Homo sapiens: one gene and its partner. The protein of the gene in region 1 purifies or fractionates together with the protein of each later gene. This does not show direct contact. Each region holds a gene or a part of one and is shown in the gene's direction. Other genes may lie near its edges.

Region 1 (7,534 bases):
TTATTTTATTTTTCGTAGAGATGGGGGCTCACTATGTTGCCCAGGCTGGTCTCCAACTCCTGGGCTCAAGCAATCCTCCTGCCTCAGCCTCCCGAAATGTTGGAATTACAGGTGTGAGCCACTACCAGGCATGAAACGTATTTTAGAATGCCATGGGACATCAGCCACCAGCAATTTTTTTTGTTTTTTGTTTTCTGAGACAGAGTCTCGCTCTGTCACCCAGGCTGGAGTGCAGTGGCCAGATCTCAGCTCACTGCAACCTCCACCTCCCGGGTTCAAGCAATTCTCCAGCCTCTGCCTCCCGAGTAGCTGGGATTACAGGCATGCACTACTGCATCCGGCTAATTTTTTTTTTTTTTTTTTGTATTTTTAGTAGAGATGGGGTTTCACCGTGTTAGCAGGGCTGGTATCGATCTCCTGACCTTGTGATCCGCCCGCCTCGGCCTCCCAAAGTGCTGGGATTACAGGCATCAGCCACTGCTCCCGGCTGCATCCAGCTAATTTTTGTATTTTTAGTAGAGACTGGTTTCACCATGTTGGCCAGGCTGGTCTCGAACTCCTGACCTCAGATGATCCACCCGCCTTGGCCTCCCAAAGTGTTAGCATTACAGGCGTGAGCCACCGTGCCTGGCAACCTTGCAAATTTTGAATTCCCTGCTAGGTGCTGGGAACTCAGACTTTCACCAACACCAGCCCAGAGAGGCTGGACGAGGCAGTGGCTGCAAAGGGAGAGGACAGGGGATCTTAAGAAGGCGTGAAGGGAGGGGATCTGCATGAAGGCAACTGTGGCTACTTTTTTGTTTCGTTTTTTGTTTTAAGACAATGTCTTGCTCTGTTGCCCATGCTGGAGGGCAATGGCACATTCTTGGCTCACTGCAACCTCCACCTCCTGGGCTCAGGCACTCCTCCGGCCTCAGCCTCCTAGGTAGCTGGGACTACAGGCACGTACCACCAGGCCCTGCTAAGTTTTAAAAAACTTGTAGTAGAGACAGGGTCTCGCCATGTTGCCTAGGCTGGTCTGGAACTCCTGAGCTCGAGTGATCCTCCCACCTTGGCCTCTCAAAGTGCTGGGATTACAGGTGTAAGCCACCACACCCATAGTTGTGGCTCCTTTAAGATGAGGCCATGATACCCTTTACTCTTCACCTAAAGCAGTAGCCAAGGGACATGTACATAGGGGTGCTCAACACCTGCTTGGTGACCGAGGGATTGAGCGGGGTGGAGGGTGACACACCAAGGTCATGGCAACTCTGTCATGAGGCTAGGAGTTGCAAAGAGGGTCACTACTGAGGACAGTTACATTAATCCTTTAGGCCAGTGCTTCTGAAACTATAAGGTGTACAAATCACCAGACAGTTTTGTTAAATGCAGATCCAGAAGCAGTGCATCTGGGCTGGGACCTGAGATTCTGCATTTCTGGCAAACTCCCAGCTACCAGTTTATAAAAGGTTGTCCATCCCTGCACCTTTCCTATCCTCATGGCAGCCCTAGGAGAAGCCTCAGGGTAGGAACATTTGGATACAAAAAAACAGGGGCTTTCTAGAGCTGTCGCACAGGAAACAGGCTCATTAGAACCTGTCTCTACTAAAAACACAAAAATGAGCTGGGCATAGTGGTGCATGCCTGTAATCCCAACTACTTGGGAGGCTGAGGCAGGAGAATCATTTGAACCCAGGAGGCTTAGGTTGCGGTGAGCCGAGATCGCGTCATTGCACTCTAGCCTGGGTGACAGAACGAGACTCTGTCTCAAAAAAAAAAAAAAAAAGGTCGGGCATGGTGGCTCACGCCTGTAATCCCAGCACTTTGGGAGGCCGAGGTGAGCGGATCACCTGAGGTCAGGAGTTCGAGACCAGCCTGGCCAACATGGTGAAACCCCGTCTCTACTAAAAATACAAAAATTAGCTGGGCATGGTGGCGCATGCCTGTAATCCCAGCTACTCGGGAGGCTGAGGCAGGAGAATGGCTTGAACCTGGGAGGCGGAGGTTGCCATGAGCCGAGATCACGCCACTGCACTCCAGCCTGGGCGACAGAGCGAGACTCTGACTCAAAAACAAAACAAAACAAGAAATGGGGGGAATTCCTTGGATTCTGATTGAAGGAAATAGAACTGGGAAGGGAAGACTGTCAGGTGGCTGCTGTTGGGCCCACCTCTCCCTCCCTGGGGTCACACAGGCCATTGTCAACACTTCTCTCCACAAATTTGCTTCTTCTCTGTCTTGTCCGTGGATCCCCAGACCCTGTGGCCTTCCAGTTCTTGAACCCATCTCTTGAGTGAGTCAGGGTCTCAATTTCAAATTCTTGACCTCAGCTTGAGAGAGGCATCCAAGCCCTTGTCTAATCAGCCTTGGTCAGAGAGGTGGAGTCACTTGGTACAGACAGTGAGACCTGTAGGAGGAGGGTGTGGGGTTTGCCCTAATCACTGGTCCTAAGGGACAAAGAAAGGTAGAATATGAGAGCTGCCTGGACCTCTCCCCTTACCTTGAGCCCCTCTCTTCTCTCTCCAGACACCGGCGGTGGGGGCCGGAGCGCAGGACAGCACTGGGCAAGGCTCCGGGGAGAAAGCGGGTTGTCCCTGGAGCGGCACCGGTCAACACTGACCCAGGCTTCCTCCATGACACCACACAGTGGACCTCGAAGCACCACGTCTCAGGCTTCTCCTGCCCAAAGGGACACTGCTCAGGCTGCCTCTACACGTGAAATCCCCAGAGCCTCCTCTCCCCATCGAATCACCCAAAGGGACACCTCCAGGGCCTCATCCACCCAACAGGAAATCTCCAGGGCCTCATCCACCCAACAGGAAACCTCCAGGGCCTCATCCACCCAAGAGGACACCCCTAGGGCCTCATCCACCCAAGAGGACACCCCCAGGGCCTCATCTACACAGTGGAACACCCCCAGAGCTTCCTCTCCCTCACGAAGCACCCAACTGGATAACCCCAGAACCTCTTCTACCCAGCAGGACAACCCCCAAACTTCTTTTCCTACTTGTACTCCCCAGCGGGAAAACCCCAGGACACCCTGTGTCCAGCAGGACGATCCCAGAGCCTCCTCTCCCAACAGAACCACTCAACGAGAGAATTCCAGAACATCCTGTGCCCAGCGGGACAATCCCAAAGCCTCCAGAACCTCCTCTCCCAATAGAGCCACACGAGACAACCCCAGAACATCCTGCGCCCAGCGGGACAATCCCAGAGCCTCCTCTCCCAGTAGAGCTACACGAGACAACCCCACAACATCCTGTGCCCAGCGGGACAATCCCAGAGCCTCCAGAACCTCCTCTCCCAATAGAGCCACACGAGACAACCCCAGAACATCCTGTGCCCAGCGGGACAATCCCAGAGCCTCCTCTCCCAGTAGAGCTACACGAGACAACCCCACAACATCCTGTGCCCAGCGGGACAATCCCAGAGCCTCCAGAACCTCCTCTCCCAATAGAGCCACACGAGACAACCCCAGAACATCCTGCGCCCAGCGGGACAATCCCAGAGCCTCCTCTCCCAATAGAGCTGCACGAGACAACCCCACAACATCCTGTGCCCAGCGGGACAATCCCAGAGCCTCCAGAACCTCCTCTCCCAATAGAGCCACACGAGACAACCCCAGAACATCCTGTGCCCAGCGGGACAATCCCAGAGCCTCCTCTCCCAATAGAGCTACACGAGACAACCCCACAACATCCTGTGCCCAGCGGGACAATCCCAGAGCCTCCAGAACCTCCTCTCCCAATAGAGCCACACGAGATAACCCCAGAACATCCTGTGCCCAGCGGGACAATCCCAGAGCCTCCTCTCCCAACAGAACCACCCAACAAGACAGCCCCAGAACATCCTGTGCCCGACGGGACGATCCCAGAGCCTCCTCTCCTAACAGAACCATCCAACAAGAGAACCCCAGAACATCCTGTGCCCTACGGGACAATCCCAGAGCCTCCTCTCCCAGCAGAACCATCCAACAAGAGAACCCCAGAACATCCTGTGCCCAACGGGACGATCCCAGAGCCTCCTCTCCTAACAGAACCACCCAACAAGAGAACCCCAGAACATCCTGTGCCCGACGGGACAATCCCAGAGCCTCCTCTCGCAACAGAACCATCCAGCGAGACAACCCCAGAACATCCTGTGCCCAGCGGGACAATCCCAGAGCCTCCTCTCCTAACAGAACCATCCAACAAGAGAACCTCAGAACATCCTGTACCCGACAGGACAATCCCAGGACCTCCTCTCCCAATAGAGCCACACGAGACAACCCCAGAACATCCTGTGCCCAGCGGGACAATCTCAGAGCCTCCTCTCCCATCAGAGCCACCCAACAGGACAACCCCAGAACTTGTATTCAACAGAACATCCCCAGATCATCTTCTACCCAACAAGACAACCCTAAAACCTCTTGTACCAAACGAGATAACCTCAGACCCACTTGTACACAGCGGGACCGCACACAGTCCTTTTCCTTTCAACGAGACAACCCTGGAACCTCCTCATCTCAATGCTGCACCCAAAAGGAGAATCTGAGACCATCATCTCCCCACCGCTCCACTCAATGGAACAATCCCAGGAATTCATCTCCCCATCGTACTAACAAAGACATCCCCTGGGCCTCGTTTCCCCTCCGGCCAACTCAGAGTGATGGTCCCCGAACCTCTTCCCCATCTCGCTCCAAGCAAAGCGAGGTTCCCTGGGCATCCATCGCCCTCCGGCCAACCCAAGGTGACAGGCCTCAGACATCCTCTCCCAGCAGGCCAGCCCAGCATGACCCACCCCAGTCCTCCTTTGGCCCCACCCAGTACAACTTGCCATCCCGGGCCACCTCTTCCTCCCATAACCCAGGCCACCAGAGCACCTCCCGAACTTCCTCACCTGTGTACCCCGCTGCCTATGGGGCTCCCCTGACCTCTCCTGAGCCCTCCCAGCCTCCATGTGCTGTGTGCATTGGGCACCGGGATGCCCCTCGAGCCTCTTCGCCCCCTCGCTATTTGCAGCACGACCCCTTCCCCTTCTTCCCAGAGCCCCGCGCCCCTGAGAGTGAACCGCCCCACCACGAGCCTCCCTATATACCACCTGCTGTGTGCATTGGACACCGAGATGCCCCCCGGGCGTCCTCGCCCCCCCGCCACACCCAATTTGACCCCTTCCCCTTCCTCCCAGACACATCAGATGCCGAGCATCAGTGTCAGTCCCCCCAACACGAGCCCCTTCAGCTCCCTGCACCTGTGTGTATTGGGTACCGAGATGCACCCCGGGCCTCCTCCCCACCACGCCAGGCCCCAGAGCCTTCCCTCTTATTCCAGGACCTCCCCAGGGCCAGCACAGAGAGCCTTGTCCCTTCCATGGACTCTCTGCACGAGTGCCCCCACATCCCCACCCCTGTGTGCATTGGGCACCGGGATGCACCCTCCTTCTCATCCCCACCACGCCAGGCTCCTGAGCCATCCCTCTTCTTCCAGGATCCCCCTGGAACTAGTATGGAGAGCCTGGCCCCCTCCACTGACTCTCTGCATGGCTCCCCAGTGCTGATCCCCCAAGTGTGCATCGGGCACCGGGATGCACCCCGAGCCTCCTCCCCACCCCGCCACCCACCCAGTGACCTAGCGTTCCTGGCACCCTCACCTTCACCGGGCAGCTCTGGGGGCTCCCGGGGCTCAGCGCCTCCCGGGGAGACCAGGCACAACTTGGAGCGGGAGGAGTACACTGTGCTGGCCGACCTGCCCCCACCCAGGAGGCTGGCCCAGAGACAGCCAGGGCCCCAGGCGCAGTGCAGCAGCGGGGGCCGCACCCACAGCCCTGGCCGTGCAGAGGTGGAGCGCCTCTTCGGGCAAGAGCGCAGGTGAGCCCGGGGGTGGGGTCAGCCAGGTGGGCTGGGGAGGAGGCTCGGCAGCAGGACAGGTGAAGGGTTAGGGTGCCAAAAGAAAGTGTTCAAATCCCCCTGGCTTGCCATTTACCGGCTGTGTGACCTTGGGCAAATCGCTCCATTTCTCTGTTTCTGCATATTGGGAGTTTTCTGTTTTGTGTGTGTGTGTGGTTAAGTGATGTCATGCACAGCCCAGTGGTTAACAGCAAAGACTGCAGTCAGGAGGGCTGAGTCCAAATCCTGGGTCAAAGCCACATGTCAACTCGTATGACCTGATATAGTGAGTTAACCTACCTGAGCCTCAGTTTCCTCATCTGTAAGGGAGGGGAACATGAGCACATTCATTCAAATAAGGGTGAACTGTCTTTTTATTTTTTATTTTTTGTTTTTTTTTTTGAGGTGGAGTTTTGCTCTTGTTGCCCAGGCCGGAGCGCAATGGTGCAATCTCGGCTCACTGCAACCTCCACCTCCTGGGTTCAAGCGATTCTCCTGCCTCAGCCTCCCGAGTAGCTGGGATTACAGGCACGTGCCACCACACCCGGCTAATTTTTTTGTATTTTTACTAGAGACGGGGTTTCGCCATATTGGCCAGGCTGGTCTCGAACTCCTGACCTCAAGTGATCCACCCGCCTCGGCCTCGCAAAGTGCTAGGATTACAGGAGTGAGCCACCGTGCCCGGCCAAAATGAGAGTGAACTCTCAAACCCTTTGATCCAGACTCATGGGTTTTTTTTTTTTTTCTTCCGTGCATGAGGGAGAAGAAGAAAGTACCCATGATTTTTTCCTGCCTTGGCAAAGAAAACTCATGGGTCCCTATGCATTTCAGAAAACAGTTATGTCAATTTAAAATGTATGGCCAGGGCCGGGCACGGTGGCTCATGCCTGTAATCCCAGCACTTGGGGAGGCCGAGGCGGGCGGATCACAAGGTCAGGAGATCGACAGCAGCCTGGCTAACACGGTGAAACCCCATCTCTACTAAAAATACAAAAAATTAGCTGGGCATGGTGGCGGGCGCCTGTAGTCCCAGCAACTCGGGAGGCTGAGGCAGGAGAATTGCTTGAACCTGGGAGGCGGAGCTTGCAGTGAGCCGAGATCGTACCACTGCACTCCAACCTGGGTGACAGAGTGAGACTCCATCTAAAAATAAAAATAAAATAAAAATGTATGGCCAGAGCTACCTATTTTAAGAAAGAAAGCTCACAGAATTATGGATTTTTAGCAGTCAAACATCCTGGGACACCTGAAGTCCAGGTGTCTTTTGAGTCTCCTTGGTCAGCAGCACTGGCCCCCTGGAAGGGGAGCATTTCCTCCTGATCAGGCTGAGGTTTCTCTCCCCAGAAGTTCCAGCCCTCGAGTTTTCAAGAATCAGAGCTAGAATTCCATTAGTTAGGGTCAAGAGAACAACAGCAACAAAAAGCAGTCTGGAAGTCTCAAAACTTTCCATGTATATAATTCAACGAATTTTTAGTTTATTTACCAAGTTGTCCAACCATTGCCACAATCTAACTTTAGAACATTTTCATCACCCTAAAGGGTATGGAATATTTTGTATCTAAAATTCCTCTTTGCTGCTCCTTGGGAAAGTTTTCTCCTGGATTTGAATCTGCATGAGAAACCTTATCAGTCTTGGCTGGGTGCAGTGGCTCCCTCCTGTAATCCCAGCACTGGAGCTTGCAGTGAGCCAAG
Region 2 (8,512 bases), on another chromosome or scaffold:
TAAGTATCCTAGGGTATGGGGCCAAGGCAGTTGGTGACTTTTAAAAGCAGGTGATTCTAAATGGGCTGCCAAGATTGTGATCCACTGTAGAGGAAGCAAGAAAAGCTGCACCTGGTGTACTTGTGGCTCCAAACACCACATTATTGCTTCTGACTCTGTGCTTTGTGGAAACCACTTCTCTTAGTCTTCTGATAACCCATTAACTGCCTTCTTGATGTTCATGAACTCCTCATAATACCCTCCTCCAGCACCGTAATTGGAGAATATTTTATGGAATTTCTGATATGCATAGCCGAACAACCAACTTGGCCATACTGATGGCTATTTGGATCTTAAAAATGTCCTTTTGAAGAAGAGAAGGCCACCAAGATTAGCTTTCCATTTTTATTTGCCTGTTCCAAGGCTGATGTCGCTTGGGTCCTAAGTGCTCTCATAGCAGTCTTCTGCCTGCAGAACGGGGAGAAGTAATGAGGTCAATATCAGAGTTTGTAAATACAGGCAGCCTGAAGACAATATACAGAGGAGTGTTTCAAAGGTCCACTCTGGTCAGGCATCCAAGCTTTGATTCTCGGCTCCACTCTTTCTGGTTTTACGACTTGGGCAAGTTGCTGGATCTACTTGAAACTCAGTTTCTGCACCTGTGAAAACAGGGTAATACTACATCCAAGTTGCTGTGAGGATTAAGAAAAATCTCCCACCTACTAAAATTTCAATCCTATGTTAGCTCTTAGCAGAGAGTGTTGCACAGCAGTTAAGAATGATGCCTCTGGAGTCAGCTTACCCTCGTTTAAATCCCAGCATTGCTACTCACTAGCTGAGTGGCTTTGGGCAAGTTACTTAATCTCTCTGTGCTCCAGTTCCCTCTTGTGCCCCAAAGGGATAATTATACCTACAGGGCTGATGTCATGATTAAATGACCTAACATTAGGACGACCTGACATCCCAGTTTGCTTAGGACAGTTCCAGTTTCTGCCTTTAGTCCTAGTGTTCTGGCTGGCTTAGAAGTTACCCATCCTCTTTCACTCTCAAAATTGTCCCAGATTAGACAATTAAGTAGACAGTCATCATAGTTAATATATACATGGCATAGAAAAGTACTTAGTATAGAATAGCTGCTAAATATGTGTTAGCTGCTAATATTAGCTCCTACAGCAGTACTAACCAATAGAAATATGTAAGCCATGTATACTTTTAAATTTTCAGCAACCACATTTCTAAAGGTAAAAAAGAAATAGGTGAAATTAGTGTTGAGATTTAACCCAATATATCCCAAAATTATTTCAATGCCTAATATAAAAAGTATTAGTGAGACATTTTTTTCATTTTGTAAAATACTAACTCTTTGAAATCTGGTGTGAATTGCATTTACAGCACAGCACAATTCAGACTAGCAACATTTCAAGTGTCCAGCAGCCATGTGTGGCTAGCAGCTAACATGCTGCCCAGCACAGCTCTGAGGATTTATATTCCTCCCGTGTGATGATGGACCAGAGAGTCTTACAGCCTTCTCAGGTCTGTAATGCCGAGTTTGAGATGCTTAGCTTCTCTGCCACACTCTGCAAGCAGGGCACTGATGCAGGTCTTCGGAATGTATTTATTGCCAAAGATCTTAGCCTCGTTTCCTCGGCAGGTGCCCAACCTCACTGAGAAGAATATTGTAGTAGCCTCTTACCCTTGGAGAAATCTCTGCTGACTCCCTGGCAAGTGGAAAAACCATGAGCCAATTAGTGTTTTGCAGGCTACTTCATTACTATGGTCTTACTAATTATGAAAAGGAATGCCAAGGTTATTTTATTAATTTTCCCATGTTACAGTTTTCTTCTATTTGGAAACATCCCCAGGAAAATACAAAAAGTGTTTTTTCTATGAATATTTGGACTTTTTCTGGTAGATTATCTCCCTCCAACCTTCTGATTGTGTTATTGCATTTTTATTCTATTCTCTGGACTGGGTCCAATATCTCCACATTCCTCTAAATCATGCTGCCTCTAACTAGACCCAGAAGTACAGTCAGCTCCTGACCAAACACCAAATAAAGTGGAGAATGACTTTTTGGCTGTGGTGTGATATCTATCTCTCCTTCCTCCTGCAGGGGCAGTTTCTTGTTATCCCAACAAGTCTTAGCTTTGGTTCCTCAGACTTGGGCAATCAAGATACTCATAATCTAAGAAGAACCAGTATTGATGAAGGATGAGCAAGGAAAAAGGGATGATATCATTTAATCTCAAGAATAAAAATTGAGCCCACTCAATCAATGAATTTCATTTGTGATGTCCTGGATGGCAACACTCTTTGGAGTTTACAATTGTATTGCTTTGACAAGACTGACCTGCTAGTGTGATCAGAAAACAATGTTTCGTCATGAAATGACAGGGCAGTTTTGCTTATGAAGGGTCTACAAACTAAGAGAATAGGTTTAGGATGTCAGAACTGAAAAAGATCGGGTATGGTGGCACATGCCTGTAATCCCAGCACTTTGGGAGGCCGAGGCAGGCAGATCGCTTGAGCCCAGGAGTTCGAGACCAGTCTGGGCAACATGGCGTAACCCTGTCTCTACCAAAAGTACAAAAAAAAAAAAAAAAAAAAAATTACCGGGTGTGGTGGCCCACACCTGTAGTCCCAGCTAGTGAGGTGGGACCTGGGGGCTGAGGTGGGAGGAAAGCTTCAGCTTGGAGGTTGAGGCTGCAGTGAGCCATGATTGTGCCACTGCACTCCTGCCTGGGCACCAAAGTGAGACAAAGATAGAAAGAAGACAGAGAGAGAGAGAGAAAGGAAGGAAGGAAGGAAGGAAGGAAAAAAAGGAAAAGAAGGAAAGAGAGAAAAAAGAAAACAAAAGAAAAGAAAGATCTTGGAGGTCATGTACTTTGATGTTCCCTTCTACTAATGAGGAAAGGGGGAACAGGGGAAGTTAAAACCCTTGGTGAAGGTCAAATGGCAAGTAAGCAAAAGAAATGGGTCAGGAAACCCAGTCTCCTTGCTCTTGGTGCTCATGGCACTACATATTACACTGCTGTTACCTTGATATTTGGATAAAGGAATGCAACATACTGCTCCTCCCAAAAGGTTTTACTACTTTACACAGGTTAGCTGGTCATTTTATTTTTGCTTCTTTAACTCAACCCCTTTCACCTGGGCCTAGTTCTCATCAAAGGGTGGTATTCAATGTATCCAATGAACCCAATTAGCATTTCTAAAACGCCTGGGCAACACAACCAATAAGAAGATGCTATTGAACCTCTTACTTCCCCACTAATCCCCCTGCAGTTGGCAGAACTTAGCTGCCATGCTCAGTCTACAGACTACAAAGTTGCTTTGAGTTTCAAAAGTGGGGATCTGGAAAAGGATCTTGGCACAGCCCAAAAAAATAAGAATACTTTCACAACGATCCCTCATCCAGAGTTAGACTTGCTGACTTTAGAGGGTGGGAGTGTAAACTAAGGAGAATCATATACAAACCACCTATGGGAATCTAAGAGGTGATAGGCTGGTAGGCTCTTTGGAGGTGGCTGGGACAGAGAAAAAAGAAGAGGGACAGGACCTCTGTGAATCAAAGTCAGATGTGCCTGCCTTAGACAATCATTGTTTAATGTTGTCTAATATTTTAACTCCTTCAAAATGTCAACTGTTCCTACAGAATACACACATGTCAAATTTCCAAGACAGCATCATCTACCTGTACCATGCTCCAAATCCCATCCTCCCAGCTGCCCCTACTTGAACCAGACTGACCTGCAAAAATAGAGCAGAAAACTCACAGGCAGTAATGTTCCCCTTAAATACCCTACAATATGTCATTAACAAGAATCACGATGAAACACTATTGTAGAAATTGCCAGCATTAAACCAAAAGAATGTTGGTCAGTTCATGTTTCTTTTACAGTGTGACTTTGTTTGAGAGGGATAAAGGACAGGAAGAGGAGTGTACATCTTGCTTTAGCTGTTCCTCACTTGGCTAAGGAACTTTTGCTGTAGGAAGTGAAGACCCTGCACCTAGTTACAAGGCTTTTGATGCTTGTTTGTCAAGTTCAACTGTTAAAGGGGAGATAGGCTCTTCCCTAGTAGGGAGAGGGAGGAAGGAAAGGGGGATGGGGCGGGGGGAGGGAACAGGTAATATCTGCCATATAAATATTAGTATGTAGCTGACACGTTATAAACTGAGCTGTTAGGGTGAATTTCAATTTTGTTGGAATCGACCTTTTTTCCCTCTTAAGTTCAATTGACTTACAGTAGATCCCAGAAAGAACTCAATACGTTATTTATTCTAGAAAGCTTTCTTCCCTGAGCAAAGGAGGCAGAGCTAACGAGGAGAAGGGAGGAGCTTAGGTGAACAGAACTGAAGTCACAGCTGGTTAGCATGACTAGAATGCATGGAAAAGCCAGCCCAAATTAGATGAGTGGGTAGATAGAGAGCTTTGAAATCCTTGGAATTAATGGTGGAGTCCATCGTAATTGAAAGGTCGGGCCTTAGTGGGCTGGGATAGGGAGAGAAGCTGTCGGGGACCTGGGGCAGTGAGCCTGTACCCCGTGGCTTCTCACACACTATTTTGAAGGCGTTCCCATGCGCAATCTCGCCTGTCAGTTCAGGCTGTAGGTTTCTCCTTTCTAACTCCTGAGCAGAACAACACTGAACGGTGGTAGTCTTGCCTTGCCACCCAATGAGTGCTAGAAAACAGTCACTTCAACCAATTGGTTCAGTCCGGAGAACGTGAGCACATTCTACTTTACTTTCTGTTCAATGATTTTGGAAAACAACCTTTTAGATTCTGGTCAGAAGGGGCTTGGATCCGTGACTTTGAAACACTCGCCACTACCACAAACGACTTTGGAAGTTAATCAGAAATAAACAGTATCTGGGATCTCATCCGTCCTAAACCCAGGGGTCAGAGCGTGGGGGGCTTCCACTAACTTCAGGTTAAGAGGATGAAACAGATCCGCGGAGAAGGGTCCCACGATCCCTGGAGACTAAAAGCAAGCCACGAACAGCCGGGACGCGCGGGCCGGGGAGATGCGCCGGGGGCTGGAGGGCGGAGAGCACCCCCCGCAGGTCCCGGCCAGAGCCCGGGGCCGGGTCACCTGACTCGCGGAATTTGGGGCCGCGAGGGGTGGAATGGGAGGGGAATGGTTAGCGCCTCCCTTCCCGCTCCCACTGGATCCAGGTCGGCGGGGGCCGGCGCCCGGCGGCCACGTGGTGGTGCTGCCGCTGCCCCCGCCCCGCCGGCCTAGCCCGGGAGCTCGGCGCCCACTGACCCCCGCAGCGGGGGAGGAGGAGGGACTGCGGCGCAGGAAGCCGAGCAGGAAGCGAGCCCGGCGGCCGCGTTTTCCTGGGGAAGCGGCGGGCGGGGTGGAGCAGCCAGCTGGGTCCGGGGAGCGCCGCCGCCGCCTCGATGGGGTGAGTGCGCGGCACGGAGTTGGGAGGCTCCCGGCGCGGGGTCCCGGGCTCGTGTCCCCGCCTTTGTGTCTGGAGCTCGGGCGCGGGAGGCGCTGGGGACGGCGCCCGGGCGGAGCGGCTGAGCGGGCTGCAGCCGGGGTCCCGCCACCTCTCCCTGGTCCACCGCCGGCAGCCCACTGTCTGCGGAGAGCAGATCTGGGGACAAGAGGAAGGAGAGGAAGGTGGAGATGAGGGTAGAGCGGGAAGACCCGGCCAAGTTAGGAGAAGGGTTCTTCCCGGGTCCTCCGCGACTCGCAGGCCGGCTGGGGCGGGGCGCGGGGCAGGGGCCGCGGCGGAGGGAGCGCGGGTGGGAATGAATGAGCAGACCCGGAGATGCACCCTGGAGTCTGCGCCGGGTCCCACCTGTTTCGCCCCGCGCGGCGCCTCGCTGCCCCCGCGTCGGTGCTGCTGAGCCCAATCCGCCTCCCGGCTGAACTTGGAGGAGGTGGGGAGGGAGGTGCGAGCGGGAGACTCCGGGTGGCTCCCAGGACGCGGGGTCCGCTATTGTTCCTCCTCTGACTCCAGGGAGCCCCTCGGCCGGCCCAAGGGCGGGGGCGAGACCCCTCTGGGCCTGCCCCTGCCCCCTACCTTGTTTTCCCCGCCGCAGCTCGGGGAGAACGGATGCTGGAGTTGGGGCAGACTCGGGGCCGCCGGGACTTCGGGAGTAAGGAGGACGTGGAGCCACCAGAAAGGCGCCCGCCATCTCCCGCGACCCCTGCCTGGTGGGGGGTGGGGGGTGGGGTGTCGTCCTCAACCACCTTCGCTGCCTTCTTGGGCAGGTTGGTGTCGGTTTAGTTTCTGCGGTTTGCAGGGTTGACATCCTAACTCCTTTGAGTTTCGCATCCCCCTTTTGTGGAGGGGGCTCAGAGCCTGGAGAAGCAACAGACGGGGAATTAAGGCAGATGCAGCCCAGCACAGCGTGGAGGGGTCCGAAGTGGCCTCACGGGGGCCTGAGCATGGCTGTCTTTCCAGGCTCCTCTTTATTTGCCAGGAGCCCAGCTAAGCCCAACTTTACTCCCAGAAATGTTGAGGGGAATCTGCGGACTCGAGGCCCCTCGCCTCGGGACCAGCGGCTTCTCTTCGCCGCAGCTCACGCATGATCGGGGTGGGATTCCGTCTTCCTTCCGGGAGAGGAGAATGCCCAGCTGCCTGGGATGGGGAAACGTTGCCGGATCTCTGGGGAATGTGGTCTCAAGGCTGCAGGGGCCTGGCAGAGAGGAACTGTCCATCACTAGGACATAGCCGAAGCTCGCCTTAGCGAAGAGAGTCTCACCTCCTCGGGCTTTGCACAGAGTTGGAGAAGAGGTCGGGAATCACAGGGAGGCTGGATTTTGGCTGCTCTGTCCCCAGCCTGCAGGTCCCTGTTCGCCCTGTGGCTCGGAATTTTATTACTGATGTATATAATCTGATAATCTTTTCTTAATGATGCCTAACAAGTGTGATTTTTTTCCCCCTTGGGTTTGTAAGACAGTTGATTTTATGTGAGGAGATTGATCCAGTTCTTATATTTTAGCCAGTGCTTGTCTAACAGAGATTGGGAGAGCTATCCCGTGCTGGGCTGTTGCACAGTTTTCATCTCCATTCACTGAGATGCTTCAGTAATGAATTTATTGTTTTATGGCTTTTTGGAGATGGTGGTGGTGGTGGTGTGATTATAACCCTGCTGGAAAATCTTATTACTGTTATCTGAATTGAAGAGACAGAAAGGATGCTGAGCCCCCTAGGGATTCCGTAGGGGAATGATGTAGTGTCCCGCCCACCAGTAGTGAACCTGACAGTGAAATTCTCTCTCCAGTCTGCTAGTTTTCAAAGCATGTTCTAGGCAGGTACACGTACTATCACCTAGGCTTTAAAAGTGAAGAAGCAGATTTGGAGGTTAAGAACAACTGGGCCTTGGAATTAATAGAATGCAGTGGACAACTTTTGCCTCTCCTTCCTCCACCCCCTCCCTCCCTTCCTTCTTTCCTTTTTTTTCATCCTTTAAAAATAAAAATAAGGGCCAGGCATGGTGCTTATGCCTGTAATCCCAGCACTTTGGGAGGCCGAGGCAGGCGGATCATGAGGTCAGGAGATCGAGACCATCCTGGCCAACACAGTGAAACCCCGTCTCTACTAAAAATACAAAAAATAAAAATTAGCTGGGCGTGGTGGCACGCACTTGTAATCCCAGCTACTTGAGAGGCTGAGGCAGGAGAATCGCTTGAACCCGGGAGGTGGAGGTTGCAGTGAGCTGGGATTGCGCCACTGCACTCCAACCTGGCGACAGAGCAAGACTCTGTCTCAAATAAATAAATAAATAAATAAGTATGAAATATTTCTAACATACATAAAAACAGAGTATAGTAAGCCATTTTGTCTTCTACTTCCTAGGTTTAATAGTTGCTAATATTTTCATATTTGATCCATACCTCTCCCCCCCCGGAAAAATAAACTATAACTTAAATATTTGATCTATTCCTACTCCTTTGCCTCCATCCTCAGGTAACCTCTAATGTGAAGTTAGCGCACACAGTTCTCAAGCATGTTTGGAACTACACTGTATCCACAAAAAAATACATGTGAGTTTGTGTTTAACATTTTACATAAATGGCATAATTCTACCTATGTATAGCTTGCATTTTTAACTTACTATGTTTTTGAGATACATGTGTTAATAGATCTTTATTCACTTTAGCTGTTACAGAGAATCCCAGTGTATGAAAAAAGTATAGTATATTTACTCCCTTGCCAAGAGTAAGTTAGGGTTTCTGGTTTTTCACTGTTTTTTGTTTGAGCTGCGGTCTCGCTCTGTCACCCAGGCTGGAGTGCAGTATCGTGATCACTGCTCACTACAGCCTCAATCTCCTGGGCTCAAGCAGTCCTCCTGCCTCATCCTCCAAAGTGGCTGGGACCACAGGCACATGCCACCATGCCTGGCTAATTTTTTTCATTTTTGTAGAGACAGGGTCTTACTATGTTGCTCAGGCTGGCCTTGAACTCTCAGCCTCAAGTGAGCCTTCTACCTCAGCCTTCCACAGTGCATGAGCCACTGTGCCTGGCCTAGTTTTTCACTGTTACACTTTTTCTGCTGAGTGACACTCTATT

Evidence for each region. The genes of interacting proteins can lie anywhere in the genome.
Region 2: the proteins of TRIOBP (region 1) and RAI14 purify together in Homo sapiens (affinity purification with mass spectrometry; 2 studies listed by BioGRID and IntAct, with this or other methods). This does not show direct contact.

What each region holds. Positions count from the first base shown.
Region 1 is NC_000022.11:37,720,680-37,728,213, forward strand, and holds part of TRIOBP (TRIO and F-actin-binding protein), read left to right. Parts: intron 1-2,505; coding exon 2,506-5,824; intron 5,825-7,534.
Region 2 is NC_000005.10:34,651,087-34,659,598, forward strand, and holds the start of RAI14 (ankycorbin), read left to right. Parts: upstream 1-5,241; 5' UTR 5,242-5,389; intron 5,390-5,404; exon of another isoform or gene 5,405-5,610; intron 5,611-6,167; exon of another isoform or gene 6,168-7,986; intron 7,987-8,512. UniProt on the Homo sapiens protein: Plays a role in actin regulation at the ectoplasmic specialization, a type of cell junction specific to testis. Important for establishment of sperm polarity and normal spermatid adhesion.